Linked DNA regions of Homo sapiens: regions 2 and 3 are each linked to region 1. Evidence: fine-mapped expression QTL. A gene starts in region 1. Each other region holds a variant in brackets. All regions are shown on one strand. Distances are from middle to middle.

What was found. PIP is the estimated chance that this variant, and not a neighbour inherited with it, causes the effect.
Region 2: its variant is fine-mapped to the expression of ELOVL6 in whole blood (INTERVAL, PIP 0.93).
Region 3: its variant is fine-mapped to the expression of ELOVL6 in whole blood (TOPMed, PIP above 0.99).

What each region holds. Positions count from the first base shown.
Region 1 is chr4:110,194,617-110,201,405 of GRCh38, forward strand. ELOVL6 (ELOVL fatty acid elongase 6) reads right to left here and starts at 3,999. Exons shown (of 4, transcript NM_024090.3): 1 at 3,631-3,999. The coding sequence starts at 3,719. RefSeq lists enhancers at 1,697-1,991, 3,580-4,372 and silencers at 1,726-1,835, 2,036-2,665.
Region 2 is chr4:110,049,130-110,055,918 of GRCh38, forward strand. It overlaps ELOVL6 (ELOVL fatty acid elongase 6), which reads right to left. Exons shown (of 4, transcript NM_024090.3): 4 at 1-2,633. The coding sequence ends at 2,209. Among named protein-coding and RNA genes, the nearest start is that of EGF, 140 kb to the left of the region's middle. RefSeq lists enhancers at 1,861-3,060, 6,223-6,272, 6,683-6,742. The variant C/T (reference allele first, on the strand shown) is at 3,380.
Region 3 is chr4:110,162,458-110,169,246 of GRCh38, forward strand. The region is part of intron 1 of ELOVL6 (ELOVL fatty acid elongase 6); the gene reads right to left. Among named protein-coding and RNA genes, the nearest start is that of ELOVL6, 33 kb to the right of the region's middle. The variant G/A (reference allele first, on the strand shown) is at 2,525.

The DNA of each region.
Region 1 (6,789 bases):
ATACAAATGCTACTCCAAAAGTCGGGCCCCATTCCATTAACACGTGCTATGGTTAGTAAGTATGGATTATAGGGTATGTTAACATTAATTTGCGCTATGGTTAGTAAGTATGGATTATAGCGTATGTTTAATAAAGTATTCTTATTTTAGGTCCTCTTAAATGATGCTAGTTAGCAAAGGCAGCATACTGGCAAAATACTACTCCTGGCCATTCTCACAGTTCTTCAAAAGCCAATGTAGTTCACTTTTGAGAGAGGATGTTTTAATTCTCTAAATTAACAAGTTTTGCCTGTTACTAAGAAGAGATTTATAAGGACAACCATAAATTCCCAAAAGACAGAGTAGAAGCTTCACTATATCATGTTTTTCCTCCAGAAGCTATTTCAAACCATTTTAAGTTAATGAGTCTGAAAAAGGTAAGATTTTATGGTTTCCTCAAGTTCCTCTCTCCTCAAGAGGGTCTAAGCCTTGGTTATGGAGTTCCCTTCTCCTATTAAAAAGGGAGTGAAAAGAAAATCTGGTTCAAGACTTTTTGTCCTGCATTAGCTGGATTCTATTAAAAATAAAAACTAAAAGCTTTAATTTGAACCTCCCGGGTTCAAGCAATTCTCCTGCCTCAACCTCCCGAGTAGCTGGGATTACAGGCACCCGCCACCACGCTCGGCTAATTTTTTTGTATTTTTAGTAGAGATGGGGTTTCACCATATTGGCCTGGCTGGTCTCGAACTCCTGTCGTCAGGTAATCCACCCACCTCAGCCTCCCAAAGTGCTGGGATTACAGGCAGGAGCCACCACACCCGGCTAATAAAATTAAATTTTAAAAAGTGTTTAAAGTCTTTTTGGCTGTACAGTTTTTGGGGAGGGAGGAGAGATAAAATTGGGCACCCTGGGATATTGGGAGAAATGCACAAAATCTGGCATTTAAAAAAAAACATGAAAGTAAGACAATTAGGGTCAGGAAGAGTTGCAAGGGAGGGGTAACAGCCAGCAGGGTTCTTTGACTGCAATAAGCAATCTAAGAACATAACATCAACAGAGAGCAGAAGCCAGGAAGGGAAAAATCCCAAGATGTGACTCTGCCACGGTATGCAAGTTCTAGCCTGTTAACCTTCGGGTATTAACGAGTAGTGCTGGCAATAAAATGGGCACCAATCACCATTTCAACTCACTGGACATTTTCTCAAGAATGTGCCTTATGCAAAGCACTCTGCTAGGTGCTTTGCAGAATCAAGAGTGGGATGACAAGAACCGTAACCTGAAGAGCTGATGGTCTGTAAGTTAATAACCATGTATATAACAGTAAAGGATATTGCCAGAAGAAAGGTACAGATAAAGAACTAGGAGGAAACAGTGGTCAGAACCTAACAGGAGTAGATACGTTGGCACATTTTTGTCATTTTCAGTCCCACGAGGGCTGAGACCTGTCTGGCTCAGTACTGAGTGAATGGAGAGAAGAGGCGGGAAATGGTACCTGAAGCAGGCCTAGGAAGTGGCCTCAGAGAAAAAGCAACAAGTAAATAAGAGGCAGTATCGACTGCAGTGGGCTAGGAATGGCGGGCGTACAGTGAATGGGGTCAGCCAGCAAAGCGAGGGAAAGCGGACTCCGGAAGAGCAGGTTAAACCAGGACGCAGCAAGTCAGAGATTCGGCACAGAAGCAAATGCTGACCACACTGACCACACAGGCTAATGCGGGAGGACTGTGGGCCCGAACAGGCCGGCTGGAGGATATGACAAACATGTGCGGAGAAGACCCGGGCCCGGGGCTAGCCAGCAGCGCGGTTCCGGCGCCCGCCGGCTCCGGCCACCGCCCCCTCCCCGCCTCCAGCACCACCCCCTAAGCGGGAGGAGGAAGTGCATCCAGAGAAGGACCCCGGGCGGTGGGGCTCGAGGGGCCTCGGCTGCCCCGAAACGCCGAGGTCTATCTGCGGTCTCGACCCTTAGTGTCCAACCTCCTTCCGGACCCACCCCTGCACCCCCTGGCCTCAGCGGCCCGGGAGGGCACCAGCCCTGTGCCTGTGTGGCTGCTGCACTTCCAGTCCTTCCGAGCGGCCCGCGTCCCCGCCTCTTAGGCTCCGGCTCGGGCCAGACGCGGCCCTTGGGCCCCTAGCCCACCGCCGCCACCAGCCACGCCGCAGCTCACCCCAAGCAGGCCTGCCCCGCCGGTGCGCGCGGCCCAGGAGGCGGGCTCCGCCCGGCAGCCGCCGCAAATGGCCATTGGGGCCCGGACCAGCCCGCGGGAAGCTGGGAGTGGGCGCGCTCCGGCCGGGCGGGAGGAGAAGGAAGCGGCGGCCGGGCCTCCCGACACTGGCCGGCGACTCCAGGGGGCTGGAGGACAGGAAGTTGAAACCCCCTTTTCGCAGCTGCGGCCCCGTGGCACCAGCTCCTACTGCACCAACCCGCCCAGGCCACAGGCGCGCCGGCGTTTCTGGTTTCCAGTTGAAGAGGGCAGGCGGGAGGGCGCGGGGCACGCGCGCTCGCGCACGCGGCGGGCGGAATCCCCCGGCTCCCGGGAGACCCTGCGGCCCGACCCTCCCCGGTCAAGCCATCCCCCGGGCTGCCGGCCCCTTGCCTAGCTCCGGGGTGCGTTGGGCTTGAACTTTACAGATCGCCAGACCCGAAGTTAAGGGGAGGAGAGGAATGCCTCTGCCACAACCCTGTCTACAAGAAGCGAGATGAGCACACCCTCCTCTGTTAAATATTGCAAGGTGACACTGGATCGCCTCCCACACAGGGATTTTCAAAAGGTCTGGCGGGGGGACTACAGTAAACAAGAAAGGTGTTTTCCCTGATTATTAGTTTCCTAGGGAAGAGCCCCTAAGGACTCTGCAGACGGAGGGGCTTTTAATCTGTGTGCCTGAACTCCAATCAGCAGCTACGCACAGAATTAGAAGTGTGTCCAAAAGGCGTTTCCGTAAAACAGAAACTTAATAATGGCGTGGCTCCACTCGCTCGGGTTCATTCATTTATTACTGTTTTCATTGTCCCCTCCTCCCTCCCACCCGGTCTCTCTATGAAACCGGAAAGGGAACCGCGTGGGGAAAGGGGTACTAAAAAGGGGGCATCCGCCTGAGGAGCGGCAGACAGAGGAGGACGGTGAAGTAGGAGCGCTGCAAGGAGAAAGGAAGGACACGAGGGATGGAGAGACAGCGAGGACCAGGGCCAAGGGCGGCGGGCGGGAGAGGGTTAAAGGCAACAGGAGACAAGGTCCTCCCTCCACTGCCTTTCACACTCCGGTTGCGGGAGAGGCCAAGCGAGAAAACCCAAATCTAGATGAAAACCGGGGGAGGGGAGGGGAGCACAGGTAGGCGATCTGGACTGTGGCATCTCTCCCGCCTTCCCTGTCGCGCAGACATCACCCTGTGCACACACATATGTTCTGTGTTATATAATCTATATAAAAGATGCCTATGTAGCCGCGGTTCACACAGGGGCACCCACAGACCTCGCGCTTCATGTACCCCCCCCCCCCCAGCGTCTCCTGCACCCGGGAGACCCGAGAACTCAGCGATCAGCTGGCTGCCCGCGATTCATCGCTCCATTCACGCCCAGGCAGGGAATACCGACATTAAGGCACTCCGGGAAGACGCGCAGGGCTCCCGGGAACAGTATCAGGCGAAAGCATCACGTACCAGTTTTCCTGCATCCATTGGATGGCTTCATTCTCGTTGAACTGCTTTTCGAATTCATATTCTTGTAAAGTCAACACTGACATGTTCATTGGGGCTGATCTTCGGAGTCGCTACGTGTTCTCTATACAAAATAAAATAATCTGTAAAGCGCTTGATTTCGAGTGTTCTCCTGTCTGCTTCCCCCACCCACCCCCCTAGGTCTTCCCCACGCCGCTCGGTCTCCAGCGGTCGTCTCTTCTCCCAGCCTCTCAGCTACATCCAGGGCTGAGCATTGCCTGCGCCTCCGCTCCCAGCTCCTCTCTCTGGGGCTCTCCTCCTCCCGGCGTCCGCATCCACCGTAGGAGGAAATGAATGCCTTGCGGTCTTAGTGCCCGCACGTTTGTCCATCACCCTTTTTACTCGTCTACAGGGAAATCTCCTCCCCCTCGTGCGATTTGAGAAATTAACCCTTGGCGAGGGAGTGTGCGAAAGAGCGCGACCTCTCTCCGCCCGGGGGGGACAGTTTTGTTTACAGCGAAGGTGGTTGGAAGAGTGGGGGAAGGGCGCAGAGAGAAAGGAAGTGGCCTGGAGGTCATCCAGATCCCCTAAGCCCAACCTCGTGGGCCGCCTTGCTTTGAATGAAGTTTCAGCTTGCAGGGCGCATCCCCGCGGCGCGTGGACCCGAGAGCTTGGCGAGTAAACGATTGGGAAATAGTAAAACCTGCCAGCTCTCTTGCAAGAGAACTCCGGGCAAATCTACGTTGAGATCACCAGTGAAGGGAATACGCTTCCCACCTCCTCGCCCTACCTCTGGGACCACCCCCACCCCTACCCCCACCCCCACCCGGGAGCTCTGGCTTAGATTCACGCTAACCCAGGCCCTGCGGACGGCAGAGCTCCTTAATCTCGTACAGACAGGGGATGCTGAGTGTGAGGATAGTGGATAGGCGAGAGAGGCTAGTAGCCGGAAGTGGAAGAAAGGGCTGGGTTAGGTGGAGGGTTTAGGTACCGGGAAGGGGGGGATTAATGAACAGAGGCAGAGTGGGGAAGGAAGCTGACAGGAGAACTGGACCGACTGGCCAAATGCAAAAACTTTATTTGCATGCATGAGAAATTTGGCTTTACTTGCTGTACTTGTAGGTAGAACAGAATATGTGAGGAGAGGGCTGAATGTACTGTTGACCCCTACTGGGCCCTCAGCCTCCAAGAGGAAAAACTATTTTCTATTCCATCCATCCCTCCACTCATTTCCCCCAAGAGTTTGGAAAAATGAAATATGAGACATGGAAGTATCTAATGATGTAATTGTAAACTTTACAAAATAATAAGGAGCCCTGCTTTTAAAAATTAGGTGGATATTAGGACCAGAAAGAAAATTCCCCTTCTGAGAACATCCCCCCACCTCCCCAGTAGTCCAAAAAGGGTACTTTCATTCAATTTAGATGCCTCTAACCCACAAAAAGTGGGAACTGGGAGAAAAATTTTTAAAGGAGGAAGGGACCGGCCGCGGTGGTGGCTCACAGAAGTAATCCCAGCACTTTGGGAGGCCGAGGTGGGCGGATCACCTGAGGTCAGGAGTTCAAAACAGCCTGGCCAACATGGTGAAACTCCGTCTCTACTAAAAATATAAAAATCAGGCAGGCGTGGTGGCGGGCACCTGTAACCTCAGCTACTCAGGAGGCTGAGGCAGGAGAATCGCTTGAACCCGTGAGGTAGAGGTTGCAGTGAGCCAAAATTCTGCCACTGCACTCCAGCCTGGGCGACAGAGGGAGACTCTGTCTCCAAACAAACAAACAAAAAAAAAAAAGAGGAAGGTCTAATGAGAAAGTAAAGAAATAATTTTTAAAATCCAGTACAATATATAGATTAAAGGGCTAGCCTAGTTGATTAGCAAATTAATGTATACATTGACACTGCCAAAGATTCTGTGTAGGGACTGTCCTCATCTCCCCCATTAAGGGTTGTCTTTCTTTTTTCTTTTTCTTTTTTTTTTTGAGATGGAGGAGTCTCGCCCTGTTGCCCAGGCTGGAGTGCAGTGGTGCAAACTCGGCTCACTGCAACCTCCGCCTCCCAGGTTCAAATGGTTCTCTTGCCTCAGCCTCCCCAGTAGCTGGGATTATAGGCAAGCACCACCACGCCCGCCTAATTTTTGTGTTTTTAGTAGAGATGGGGTTTCACCATGTTGGCCAGGCTGGCTGTGATCCACCTGTCTCAGCCTCCCAAAGTTCTGGGATTACAGGCATGAGCCACCATGCCCAGCCAAGGGTTGTCTTTCTAGAGACCTCTACAGTACAAGTCTACGTCACTTTGAAGTAAGGCCCAGGCCAAAACTCTTGGCAAGATTGGGCTGGAAGATAGGTGTGGCCAGATAAGAAAGAACCATTTTAGCACGGTGCCTGAGCCTGTGAATAATCAATAAATATTTGTAAAGTGAATGATTCATCAAATAAATTAAGGTAAGAAGTGAGAAAGGAATCAAGACAGAAAATCCACTTTGGGTGGCTGAGGCAAGACAATTGCTAGAGACCAGACTGGGCAACATAGTGAGGCTCCATCTCTACAAAAAATTAAAAATTAGCCAGGTGTGGTGGTACATGCCTGTAATCCCAGTTACTCTGGAGGCTGAGATGGGAGGATAGCTTGAGCCTGGGAGGTCAAGGCTGCAGTGAGCCATGATCACACCACTGCAGTCCGGCTTGGGTGACAGAGTGAGACCTTATCTCAAAAACAAACAAGCACTGTCAGTGACTTTGAAAACTGGTGACTCTGTATGGAAAGCAATTTGGCAGCCTATATGATAATTTCATTTATTTTTTAGAGATGGGGACTTGTTATGTTTTCCACGCTAGGACTATAGGCACCCAGCATATATCACAATTTTAAATCCACACCATTAATTCACCAGAATTATTTTTTTTTTTGAGATGATGTCTCCCTCTGTTGCCCAGGCTGGAGTGCAGTGGCGCGATCTCGGCTCACTGCAACCTTTGCCTCCTGGGATCAAGTGAGTCTCCTGTCTCAGCCTTCCAAGTAGCTGGGATTACAGGAATGTGCCACCATGCCCAGCTAATTTTTGTATTTTTAGTACAGACAGGGTTTCACCATGTTGGCCAGGACGGTCTTGAACCCCTGACATCAGGTGATCTGCCTGCCTCAGTCTCCCAAAGTGCTAGGATTATA
Region 2 (6,789 bases), 150 kb before region 1:
TTTGCATCCTAAGCATCTATTAGCTCTTATAAAAGGACCTGTCTTTTCAGCTCATGTCAGATTTTGCATAATTTATAATACATTCCTCCATCAGTTGTGTCTCACCTATGAACCAACATCAAGACATTATAGACTGCTCACAATCATTTAACATAGATGTAACAGCTTTCCTCCCCTGCACTGTCCCCCACTCCCCATTTCTTCCAGTCATGACTTGGTTTGCATGGATTCTTTGTTCACTGCTCAAACCATTCACACAGAATGGAATAAAACTTTATTCTTTTTAAATTCCACACATAAACGAGATGCTGAAAAAGCCCTTGCCATCTCTGACAGAAAAGCAGAGCAGCTCTGTTTCATGAACGACAGCACAATTAAAGCTAAAATAATATAAAAATAATTCGAAAAAATCCCTTTTACTGTACACTCTCAAAGCAAGAAAGAGAAACAACAGTTTTGTTTTGTTTTTTTCTGCTAGCCAGAAAATGTGTTTCTATTCATTTGGGCTTTGAAGTTCAGTGTACCCCACATCTGTGTGTCTGTGTGTGTATGCGTGGCTATGTGCGTGTAATCTATGCAGTGTGGAAGCCCCTAATCTTTTCATCTAGTTTGCCTAATCATTAAGCTACTTAACCAATTATAATACTATTATGTCACATTGAACAACTTTACATAATTGCTTCTTTGAAATACTAGAAACATTGACACATGTATTTGGCTTGTAAAGGACTGAAATATTACAGAGAATATTATCCAGCTTTTTTTTTTTAAAGAATATGGCTCTTAATAAATTGATTTTGAGTTCCAGAGCTAAAGTCCCTTTTAAAACATTTCTGAAGCTGACTTGAAGCAGGATGAATATCTTCTGATTTGGCCAAAGACATGACAAGTATTTCATATCACTTAAAATTTGAGGGATAAGTGTATGGGGGCCCTTTGTTGTCAACTGTTTTCAGCCAAACTTGCCTTGAAGTTTGTTGTAGTATTGCCACTCAGCCAGCAGAGGGCCCTTTAAACACCTCTACATTGCTTGGGGAGCAAATGCAGATGATGCAGAAACACAGTGTTCCCCCAATATTTCGAACAGCCCTGTGATTTCCTTTTGGAATTCACAAAAATATCGAAAATATGCGCTATACTGTGGGGTTTCATTTGGAAAGTTATGAGTGTGTGTGAAGTCAAACAGGGAGGGGCATACACACCATCTGTCTGTCGAATTGATCTTCGGCTCACCTCTTTTCCCACTGCCTTTCTCCCTTTTCCAGCTCACAGTGGTCCTGGGCCGGGCCTTTTTACAAATACTACAGAACCCGTTTTCACATTGTTTGGTTGAGTGTTTATCTTTTTCAATTCTGTATTTACTCTTCTGTTCAAAAGCCCGGGGCAACTGAACAAAAGGATAATGCTTCATATCTCACTTAAGAGTAGAAATTACAGTTCAACTATCAGAAATGCTCTGGGATGGAGCTGCCCCCATGGGACCTGGGCTGCACTGTTTCCATCCTCCCAGGAAGAATCTTGGGGAAGTATTCACCCCCTTTGGTTTTGGCAAACTCACTAGCCTGAGGCTATGCAGTGAAGATGAAGTTAGTTGAAATATAGTTGTTTACATCTGTTTTCATAAGGATGATTAAGACATCTTTTCTCATGGGGTCTACAGCAGCTGGCATTTCTTAAAAAGGCTTTAGTTTCTGCAAAAGCATTATCGTTCTAGATATACACCCTGTGTCTCTTTCATTTTTGTCTTTTCTATTGGCTCCAGTTTAGTGTCCATAAAGTTAGAAAGGATTGTGTGTGTTGTGCTCGCACAGTTTCTAGAGTAAAAATCTTTCATCTTAGAGAAATGTGACACTTAGTAAATACATTTTTTCCTATGTGTTAATAGCCTTTGTTTGCCTTTGATTAGTCTCCTCTGCTTCTGGCTTGCTTTTGTTCTCCCTTGTCCTAGAGTTGATAGATAAAGAGGGAATGGGGTCTTCCAGCAGCAGTGCTTGGAGATGGAGGTGCACTCAGTGAGTCCTCACCCTAAAAGGATCATAAACTTACTGGGTTAAATCAACCTAATTATCCCTAAGCTGCCTTGGGTTTTGTGTTTGCTCATGTTTTGTTTTGTTTTAGCTGCACCACGTGTGATTCCTTGTGCCATTTTCTTTTGTCTATTATTTTTCTTGATGACCCTGAGCTATGGCTTCCTCCTCAGTTCCAACACTATTCAGCTTTCGTTGTTTTCCTCATTTTGCCGATGTAGGCCTCAAAGAAGAAATGGCAGAAGAGCACAAGGTAGCTGAGGTACATGAGTGAGGACCAGAAGATGTTCTGAAAGTGAGAGTGACACTGGTCATGCTGCATCCAGCAGAAGACCAGGTAGTTAACCACACAGCCCATCAGCATCTGAGTGATCTGGGACAAGGTGATGAACATGGCAAACTTCCGGGAGACTCGGAAACCTGCCGCCCGCAAGGCATAGTAAGAGTACATCACGGCGTGCACGCCATAGTTCATAGTCATGAACCAACCTCCCCCGGCAACCATGTCTTTGTAGGAGTACCAAGAGTACAGGAGCACAGTGATGTGGTGATACCAGTGCAGGAAGATCAGCTTCTGCTTCCTCAGAATAATGAATATTGTATCTCCTGGAAGACAAAGAGGAAGAAGGTACGTGAGATCCTTGACCACCAGTAACGATGACTTACAGTTTTGTAAGAGGGTAGACATCCTGAGCTAGGACTGGAGAGTTACATAGACTGGATTAGAACCCTGAACTGGTACTTACTAGCTCTGTGACCCTGGACAAGTTAGTTATCCTCACTATTTCTAGTTTCCTCATCTATATAAATGGTGATAATTTAAAAGAGTAGCATGGAATCACCTGAGGATTAAGTAGGATAATCAGCATGGCTCTCTTCACACACAGGAGGCAAGCAGCAAATGTTTCTTTCAAGGTATTTCACACAAAATCTTATCCATCATTGATCTGGAAGGGACATTAACAACTATGTTGCCAACTCCCAACTCAACTATACATTTTAGGAAATACCACCTGGAGGGGACTGGTGACTTGTCTTAGATCATTTATCAATCAAAGGAAACAGACTGGAAGTCAAGTGCCCAGCAAAATGTTCTAAGGCTTCTCTAGAGTAGTAAAACCATAATTTTTCTTTGGTACATGATAAAAGGTACCCCTCAAACATATATCTTTGTGAGCTCCCTAAATTACACAGCCTTGCCAAATGGCAGTGAGAAAAGTAAAACCTAAACAAAAGACAGAAAAAGGGGGACAAAAATCCTCTTCTATACACATTTGCTGACAAGGGTAATAGGAATATTTTATACCAGTGAATCAAGTGAGGAGCAATTGAAAATAACAGTTTTCATTTTA[C/T]AGAATTAACTGAAAAGATTTCCAGGATCTATCAAAATTTTGTCTAACAATATCCCTTTGAAGGAAAAGACCATAGCTTCTGAGGCAGGGAATTTATATTATGAAAGCTAGAATTATGCTGAGGTGGGTAGATGCTATGTATCTGCAATGCTTCACTGAAAAGTTTCAGGGCTCTGAAAATAGACTGTAGAACATTTATGTAAAATTGGATGAAGAGCAAGCCCAGTGAAAAATATACCCAATTACATTAGCGAGTAAGAAAATAAGGGAAGTTACGCTAGGATGTGTGACAGAAACAGGCTAATGCAGGTGAATGCGTCTTTCTCCTTCCTATCTCTATGGTTATGAGACATGGGAAAAATCGACATCCTTCATGACCTTTGGTGAACTCAAACCTGGCTTCTTTTTGTGTAAAAAACAAAAGCTAGAAGGTTCTTTTAATTTTTTGTTTGTTTTTGAGACAGGGTCTTGCCCTGTCACCTACGTGCCATCGCAGCTCACTGAAAACTTGATCTCCTGGGCTCAAGTGATCCTCCCACTGCAGCCTAAGGAATAGCTGAGACTGCAGGCATGTGCCACCATGCCCAGCTAATTTAAAAAAACTTTTTTAGTAGAGATGAGGTCTTGAACTCCTGAGCTCAAGCTATCCACCAGCCTCGGCCTCCTAAAGTGCTGGGACTATAGGCGTGAGCCACCGCCCTGAGAACCCGGCCCTGGTTCTTCTTCTTCTTCTGAAATTTAATTAAGCGCAACAAAACAAAACAAAACAAAGAAAAACTAGTACTTATTCCTACCTTATCCCTCATGTACTTCACAGATGGCCTAAAACGCTTGCACTCAGCAAGGTCAAAGAATGCTGGACTATGGGGAAAGACTTCTAAGGTTCTAATGGCAGTGGCTGGAAAGATACAGGTGGTGCCCCATTCCATGCATTAGGAGAGCTATTGGTTTATTTTCCTACTAAACTGTTAAACACTATTATTTCATATTTGTTTACAATAGAAAAAGAAAGTTGGCCGGGTGTGGTGACTCACACCTGTCATCCCAGCACTTTGGGAGGCCAAGGCGGGGGGATCACCTGAGGTCAGGAGTTCGAGACCAGCCTGGCCAACATGGCGAAACCCCATCTCTACTAAAAATACAAAAATTAGGCTGGCACGGTGGCTCACACCTGTAATTCCAGCACTTTGGGAGCCCGAGGTGGGCAGATCACAAGGTCAGGAGATCAAGACCATCCTGGCTAACACGGTGAAACCCCATCTCTACTATAAAATTAAAAAAATATCCAGGTGTGGTGGTGGGTGCCTGTGGTCCCAGCTACTCTGGAGGCTGAGGCAGGAGAATGGCATGAACCCGGGAGGTGGAGTTTGCAGTGAGCCGAGATTGTGCCACTATACTCCAGCCTGGGCGACAGAGTGAGACTCCATCTCAAAAAAAAAAAATTAGCTGGGCATTGTGGCAGGCACCTGTAATCCCAGCTACTCAGGAGGCTGAGGCAGGAGAATCACTTGAACCTGGGGAGGCGGAGGTTGCAGTGAGCCAAGATCATGCCATTGCACTCTAGGCCTGGGCAACAGGGCAAGACTCCATCTCAAAAAATAAATAAATTAATTAAATAAATAGGAAAGTTGTCAGTTGTTATATTTCTGAACCTACTGTCAAATTTTTGTTGAAGTCATCTTCTCTCTTGCAAGATGCCAGATTTTTATGGTGTCTATAAGTGTCAGGCAGACTGATAATGATGGATGATGATGGTAACCCTCATACATATACTTAAGGGACAAAACTGGTGTCAGGAGACCCGGGATCTACTTTTCAGTGTTAAACTGTGCTATTTTTGTATCTGTCAGAGATCCACCGTTTCTGTATAAGTACTACTCTGTTCCTCCAATCCCTCTGTGGACAATAACGCAGACACAATCAATTCCAGCTACCTTGGTTCATAGTGTAAAGAAGGTAGATGTCCAAGATACTGTATGTTTAAAACAAGTTTAGTCATTCATAATTGAATAGATGCTTTCATGAGTCTCTTAGCATTAACTAAAATATAAACCCCTATACAATTCCAAACACATTATAATAAATTTGTCAAAGTAATATGCATTTCATCCTAACTCTTTAGTTTAACCCTATCATCACTTTTATATTAAAATTTTATTGTCTAAAGAATGATTAAGAAAAACCATATTAGAATGGGCTAGTGTGGGATGGAAAGTGGAAGGTACAATTCTGGAGTTAAGAATGGCTTTGTGTTTCTCCTGTCTGGAGGTGAGGGTATATCTCAGGTTTAACTGAGATACACTGGGTGTTTCTAGTTACTTTAGGGAGGGGAGTGGAGTGGAGGGTAGGAGGAGGGGAAAACATGTCCCGAAATCTCAAGAACAAAATTAATTTAAATTTGCTTAGGAGTTTTTTCCAGAACACATATGCACGATGGTGGGTGCGGGAATGAAATTGATCATCTCCCAGCAATGGCTCTGGAGCTGATCAGTAGCACCATTCAACACCCTATCAGGGTTACTATCCCCCAGACTGCTGACCCAAAGAGTGGTAGTTTCCCTCAGGCAGGGGGAAACTGGTGGGGCTCTAGAAGAGCTAACCAAGTCCTCTCACGGTCTTGGATATGGCAGCTGAGATGCATCAGTCAGGCCACTCTGGCAGGTACAAATTATTTTTCCTCTGGGGAAACCACATAATGTCACATTTAATTTGTCATGAGCCAGAGTCATGCCAAGTCATGGTAATTTCAGGCTTTCCAGAAGCTATAGAGTGACCCAGAAATGTTAACTATCAGAGGGACTGTGTATTTGAGTTGGTCAGTCAATCTTTCTTGTTCAAATGTCCTGTTGGCATAACGGGAAGGACATTGGCCAAGTACAAGCAATGGGACTTTAGACTCTCGAACGTTTCAGTCCTGTCATTTTAGCTACCTCCTGGCTCATGTTCTCTGTATCATGATTTCTCTAACCTTTGGTCCAACTATTTTCATTCAAGAGACAGCTTTCAGGCAGGGCATGTTGTTCCTTATACCCAAGTGTCCCTTCTTAACTACACCTTTGCAGCTGCAGGAAAAGCAACAAGCATTTGGAAATCCCCAGGGTGTTCTTGGCCACCAAGAGACACAGAGAGGCTACTCTGTGTGTGTGGTTTGTCACATACAGCTGAGTCCCTCTTCCCAGAGCTAGCTAGAGTGCTGCTGAGTCAGAGCTTCAAAAACAATGACATGCTCAACTGAGCAAGGACCTGGGCTCAGAGCAGATATTTCCAAGTTTTAACAAAACAAAATCTCAGCGGGTTTTAATATAATCCAAATAGTAGGTGCTCAGAGATTTGGCACACAAAGCAGGTTAGTGGCTCTTTTCCTCTCACTTGTTCTAGTGGCCTACAACCCCATAATTCACTGAAATGAG
Region 3 (6,789 bases), 32 kb before region 1:
CACCTCAGCCTTCTGAGTTGTTGAGACTACAGGCACATGCCACTATGCCTAATTTTTTTTCTATTTTTTGGATACAGGGTTTTGCTATGTTGCCCAAGCTAGTCTCCAACTCCTAGGCTCATGCAATCCCACCCACCTCAGCCTCCCAAAGTGCTGGGATTACAGGTGTGAACAACTGTGCCAGGCCTGAATATATAGATATTTTGGATGACTGTTTTCCCCAGAAAATTAAAGTTGCCATTTTCCTCCTGCCTCCCTACAGGAGGTTAATGAATGTGCTGAAGTACGCCAAATTTTAAGGTACACAAATGTGATATGCAACATAATAAATTCCACTGTTTACTGAGCTTCTACTACATACTAGTTAATAGACATTATTTAATTAGATTTTCACAACTCTGCAAAGCAGTTATTGGGACACTCATTGATGAAGAGAAAACTGAGTCTTCAGGAGTGAACAATTTACTTGAGGTCACCCAGATAGTCAGTGGTGCAGCTGGGGTTTGAACTAAATGGTCTGTGTCCAAGACTATGTAGGGGAAAATCAGTCCCTGTGAATGAAGAAAGACCCAATCATTTAGATAAAAATAGTACAGAATCACACTGAGAATATATGAACTCCAAACTACAATTCAAATGTGCAATCAATATCTGAGGTATTCAGACACAAAACAGAAAGCAGAAGCCTACTTGGGTGCGAAGCCATACACAGTTCACCTGAGGGGGCTTTGTATTTGTTGTGTCCTATCTGGATCTCTCTTCTCCTAGATGGGCCCAGGGCTAACATGGTCTTCTCATTTGCTACTAGGTCAGATGCCAATCCTTTAGTAAGGCTTTCCCTGACCCCCTAGCTAAAACAGCTCCCTCTGGCCCCAAGTCACCTCCTATCACACTATTTTCTTTATAGCAGTTAGCAACATCTAATGTTATTTTGTCTATATACTTGTTTACATGTTTAGTGTTTGTGTCCTAGTGGTATGAACGGTCTCTGAGAACAGCGGCCTTGTGCCTGGAACAGAGTCTGGCAAATACAGGCTCCTCAATAAATATTCATCAAACTGAGTCACTGAAATTTAACAGTTATGGACTGACCGCATAGTGTAGCAGACTGGGATGAAGGCCAAGTCTTATCATCAATGAGTATAAAATGCTAGAAGGGTGATATACAAGTCACAACTGACTTTAATATGAGAAAATCTACCACTGCCAAATGAAAAGCAAAAATGGAAGAGTTTAAGATTAAAAGTTCAAAACCTTAAAAGGTTGTATGAAGGTGGCAGCACTGAGTTGGGCTTTCTAAGTTTCAGAAATAGAGAAAGAAGAGAGATATTCCAGTGGTTTAATTTGCCAGGGTCATAAGATACTTATAGAGCAATGGGAGAACTAACTGTAAGATCGAATGGTGAGTTAAGGTCAAGGAATCTTCCTTATCAGGTGGGTAAATCTGAGTCATAGTGACAGGCAATTTGGGAGCAATGAAAAGTTCTTAGCCCTGGTTGTGACATGACATTTCTGAATGTGTAATGAGAAGTTCAAAAATGTTGGCTAGGAATTCATTACTCAGTTGAAAGCAAAATAATACTAAAATATCTGCTGAGAGTCATGCCAGTAAAAGCTACTTTTCATGGAGAGCCTAGAAAGTGCTGGACATTTTGTAAGCCATTGACACACCTTAACTAGTTTAATTATTACTACAGCCTAATTTGATTATCTCAATTTCACACTTAGAAATGGGGGCCTAGGGAGGTTAATGAATGTGCTCAAGTTCACCAAGTCATTAAGTAGCAAAGGCAGAATTGAAACTGTGTCTGAATCCACAGGTCCCAGAGTTTGATACACTGCTGCCCTGATGACAAGTTAAGGTGAGGGAAGATGAAGCCAAGGCCACCCTAGGAAAGGAAAAAGTAAAACGGTTTGTATAGCATGAGTATTCTGAGCTAGGCACTAAGGAAACACTTTGACCTAACTCAGCTTTCATAAGTCTGCCACAAGATGCCATGAACATTTGTCACAAGAAAGCAAGCACAGCCGGGTGAGGTGGCTCATGCCTGTAATCCCAGCACTTTGGGAAGCCAAGGCAGAAACAAGCTGAGGCAACGTGGCGAAAGCCCATCTCTACAAAAAATAGAAAAATTAGCCCGGTGTGGTGGCATGCACCTGTAGTCCCAGCTACTCAGGAGGATGAGGTGGGAGGACCGCTTGAGCCCAGGGAGGTCAAGGCTACAATGAGCCATGATCACGCCACTGCACTCCAGCCTGGGTGAAAGTGGGACCCTGTCTCAAAAAAAAAAAAAAAAAGAAAAAAAAAAAAACACTCAGGTTGGAAGGCAGGTGGGTTGGTAGGCTGCTCATTTATTTCTGATGAAAGAATTTCTTGTTTTGGGGAATTTCTTTTTTTTGAGACAGAGTCTCACTCTGTTGCCCAGGTTGGAGTGCAGTAGCACAATCACAGCTCACTACAACCTCTGCCCCCCAGGCTCAAGCAATCCTCCCACCTCAACCTCTCGAGGAGCTGGGACTACAC[G/A]TGCACCCCACCACACCCAACTAAGAAAGGATTTCCTGAATGTAATGTGGTATGTGGCCTTTCTGTGCATTTAGTCTTTATCATGCCACCCAAATTGTGGTAAACATATAAGCTTGTAGAGCAGGTTTGATCTCTATTCTTCAAAAAGAGGACTGGTTTCTGACTAGCTGGACTAGCAAAACAGACCATTTGCTAGATATCTACAAACTATAAGCAACCCTCTCCATTATCCTCTCACAGAAAACAATACCAGGGCACCTGTTTAGTGGAACCATGTGCTATTGCCATTCATAGGCCAAAATAGTTAAGTATCGACAATTTACAGGAGGCCCTTCCACCATTATGTTCCTGATTTTGTGGTTCCTTCCTGTCTAGCAGACCTACTCCAACTCCTTAGCCTGGCTTCCAAGCTTCCAATCGACCCTCACAACCCAACTTTATTCCTCAAACCCCACATAAACCTTAGTCAGGCCAGGCTGATTCTCCTCTCAGCTACTGCTGCTCATCAAATCCTCCATTTTAATAGCACTGCAAGAAACAGGAGGGATGAGCTCAGGTTGTCTAGCTCAGAGACACAGCAGCCTGCACTTCAGCTTTGTTCTCTGTAGCACATGTGGCTGTGGTAGGCAGGAAGTAGCATGGTCTCAGGAGCTGGGCGGTTCTAATCTCATCTGAATCACACACAGAGATGAGTTAATCACTTCTTTGAGAGTCAGCTTCCTCAACTATAAAATAACAATTATGATGCATTCCTGTCAGAACTAACAGGAGGATTTTTGTAATAAAGTATGTGGAGCTGGCCAGGTAACACCTGCCTTGCAAAACCAAACATTTACCCATGCATTGGAGTGAACCCAAGGCTAATTCCCCAAGGACAATCCTATATCCTCTGCCAGAAGAGTTTAGCACATCTGGGAAGTGGGAAAAGAGGGTGGTCTTTTCCACGTAAGAAAACCAGTTAGGCTTCTCTACATCCCTAACAAATTATCAACCCACGATCCTGCTTTCAATACATCTGCCTCCTCTGTCAGTGACAGAGCCTCAGCACTCCTGGGACAGCTTATCAACAAAAGCCCAGCTCAGAGCTGATCTGGAGGAAAGATACTGTCAGCCTTCCCCTGGGTACTATAAATCCCAGCCTGCTATCAAGTGAGATCCTAGAGAAGTTGCTCAAGGCACATTCATTTCGCCCCTGGACTGCAGTGTTCTTTGACATTATATCCCTGATTTTCCTTCAAATGTTGTTGTCTTTGGGCTAGGACCTTGGTTTGTTCTTAACTTACTTGAGCAATAATGAGACATCACCTTTCTTTTCAGATAACAAGAATTCTCTTAAATTCTTGTGTTTCAGCCAGGCGCGGTGGCTCACGCCTGTAATCCCAGCACTTTGGGAGGCCAAGGCAGGTGGATCACGAGGTCAAGAGATCGAGACCATCCCGGCCAACAACCGTGAAACCCCATCTCTACTAAAAATATAAAAATTACCTGGGTGTGGTGGTACGCGCCCTGTAGTCCCAGCTACTAGAAGGGCTAAGGCAGGAGAATCGCTTGAACCCGGGAGGAGGGGTTGTAAATGAGCCGAGATCGCGCCACTGCACTCCAGCCTGGTGACAGTGAAACTCCGTCTCAAAAAAAAGAAAAAATTCTTGTGTTTCCACTTTTGCCCTTGCTGCCAGAAGGCAATGAACACTGCCTGTTAATCTCAGCATGGTCAGCCCTCATGGTTAGCATATAAGACATCATGAGTATTCTGGTGCTACCACCATGAAAGGAAACTCCGTCTTCCTTTTTCATCAACCCAACTATTAGCTCTCAAAGTCCCTGCCTTTTGCTGGAGTGTTTCTAAATTTCTTAGCACATAGTGATTTTCTATACTATAGTTACTATAATACTATATTCCAGCACTGGAATATTTGTTCTTTTTCTGTAGCATTCTACTGTATTTTGCATGTACATCTGCCTTCCTAAACAGACTGTGATCCAAATAAGTTGAAATATATACAGAGGGTCTGTCTGTCTGCCAATGCTAGGACATTGCCTTCTATTTCTTTGTCTTCTCACCTGTCTCCTGCATGTCAGGCACACTCTCATCATTTAGTAATCACCAGCTGACTTGACCCAAGAAGACCAAACAGTCTGAATGCACACAGTAGCTGAAGATCACAGGGTTTCAGTATCTCTCCACTGGCAAAAATATTAGGTGCATTGAGACACACTTCTGGTTCTCAGGAATAAAAACTTTATCCCATCTTCAAAATGTAATCGCTATTAGAGTATTTTTACATGCACAGTAAAAGGACTTGTGTTTTAGTACATACAGCGTTAAGTACTTAACCTTATACTAACTGTAAATATGTCTCTCTCTGTGTGTGTTTACAAATTGGCCTTGTTATTATACATGCTGTTTCATAAGCAGAGTTTTCTGCAACATGTGGTATACATTTTTTTTGTCAAGATATATTCTTCTATAATATAGTTTTAATGGTTACATAAGAGTTACTAAAGGATGTTTTTTTGGTTGCAGAGAGGGGAGTGAAGGGGGAACATTATAAATTTTATTTATTTTCTTGAGGCAGAGTCTCACTCTGTTGCCCAGGCTGGAGTGCAGTGGTGCAATGATCCTCAGCTTCCACAAGTAGCTGGGACTACAGGGTGCCTGCCACCACCTCAGTTATGTATGTATGTATGTATGTATGTATGTATGTATGTATGTATGTATGTATGTATGTTTGTATGTAGAGACAGGGTCTCCCTGTGCTGCTCAGGCTGGTCTCAAACTCCTGGCCTCAAGCCATCCTCCCACCCTGGCCTCCCAAAGTGCTGGGATTACAGGCGTGAGCTGCTGCACCCAACCTCTCTTATGCTTTTGGAGAGAAAAAATAAAACACCTATCTCCATGATTAGGGCTATTCTAACAGTTTGTACAAAACTTTCTGAGGCCTTGAGAGGCAGAAACATATCCAGGCAATTAAGGAAGTTCTTTCTTGTATTTTTGATATATAATTTTAGATTAAATGCTTAATTCCAATTGGAAGGTATAGTTAGAAAACGTCTACTACTTAAGATTAATATTTTAGTGGAAATTTTGTCTTTGTATCAATTTATGAACAGAGCCAAAATTTAAGTGAACATAAAAGAGATTCAATGAAAAAAAGTTAAAACCCTTTGAGAGTAAATCATTTTTAGGTGTATTTTTAGCTTATTGCATGAGAATTATATGGCTATAAATCATTAGAGTAAGGGTCAAATTCAGGCCAGTGTGATGGCTCATGCCTGTAATCCCAGCACTTTGGGAGTCTGAGGTGGGCAGATTGCTGGAAGCCCAGAGTTCGAGACCGGCTTGGGCAACAAGGCGAAACCCCGTCTCTACTAAAAAAATATGCAAAAGTTAGCTAGGCATGGTGTTGCATGCCTGTAATCCCAGCTACTTGGGTGACTGAGGCACAAAAATCACTTGAACCCAGGAGGCAGAGGCTGCTGTGAGCCAAGATCGTGCCATTGTACTCCAGCCTGGGCGACAGAGCAAGACTGTCTAAAAAAGAAAAAAAAAAAAAGTCAAATTCAATGGATGCAATCAGAACTTTTTCAAAAACTGCTCTCACGTGCTTTCATTGTGCAGAGCTCATTTAAACAAAATGAGCCCCACCATATGCTTTTCAAAATATCACCTTTGAAAATGGTTTCTGTAATTTTCCCAGTAGGTGCTGACGTCATAAGCCAAAGCAGGAGAGACCCAGACTCTGTGGACAGGCAGTGTGGACCTAGACTGCCTGGGTTTGAAGCCTCACTCTGCCAATCACCAGGTGTCCCACCTTTTCCAAGTTACTTAACCTCATCTCCAAGACATGCCCAATCACAAAGCCTACTTCATAAAATGGAGGGTTAATTAAATTAATGTTCATGAAGCCTTTAGTGGGTACGTGGTAAGCTCAATGATTATTAGTTAATAATATCCTTATTAAACGTCCAGTAAGTCTTTTTTAAATGTTATTTTCTTTGAGAAAGGGTCTCACTCTGTCACCCAGGCTGGTTTGCAATGGCACCATCATGGCTTACTGTAGCCTAGACCTCTTGGGCTCAAGCAATTCTCCCATCTCAGCCTCCCAAGTTGCTGGGACTGCAGGTGTATGCCACCACACCTGGCTAATTTTTGTATTTTTGGTAGAGACAGGGTCCACCCACCTTGGCCTCCCAAAGTGCTAGAATTACAGGTGTGAGCCACTGCACCCGACCCCAACAGAGTTTTGGGGTTTTTTGTTTTGTTT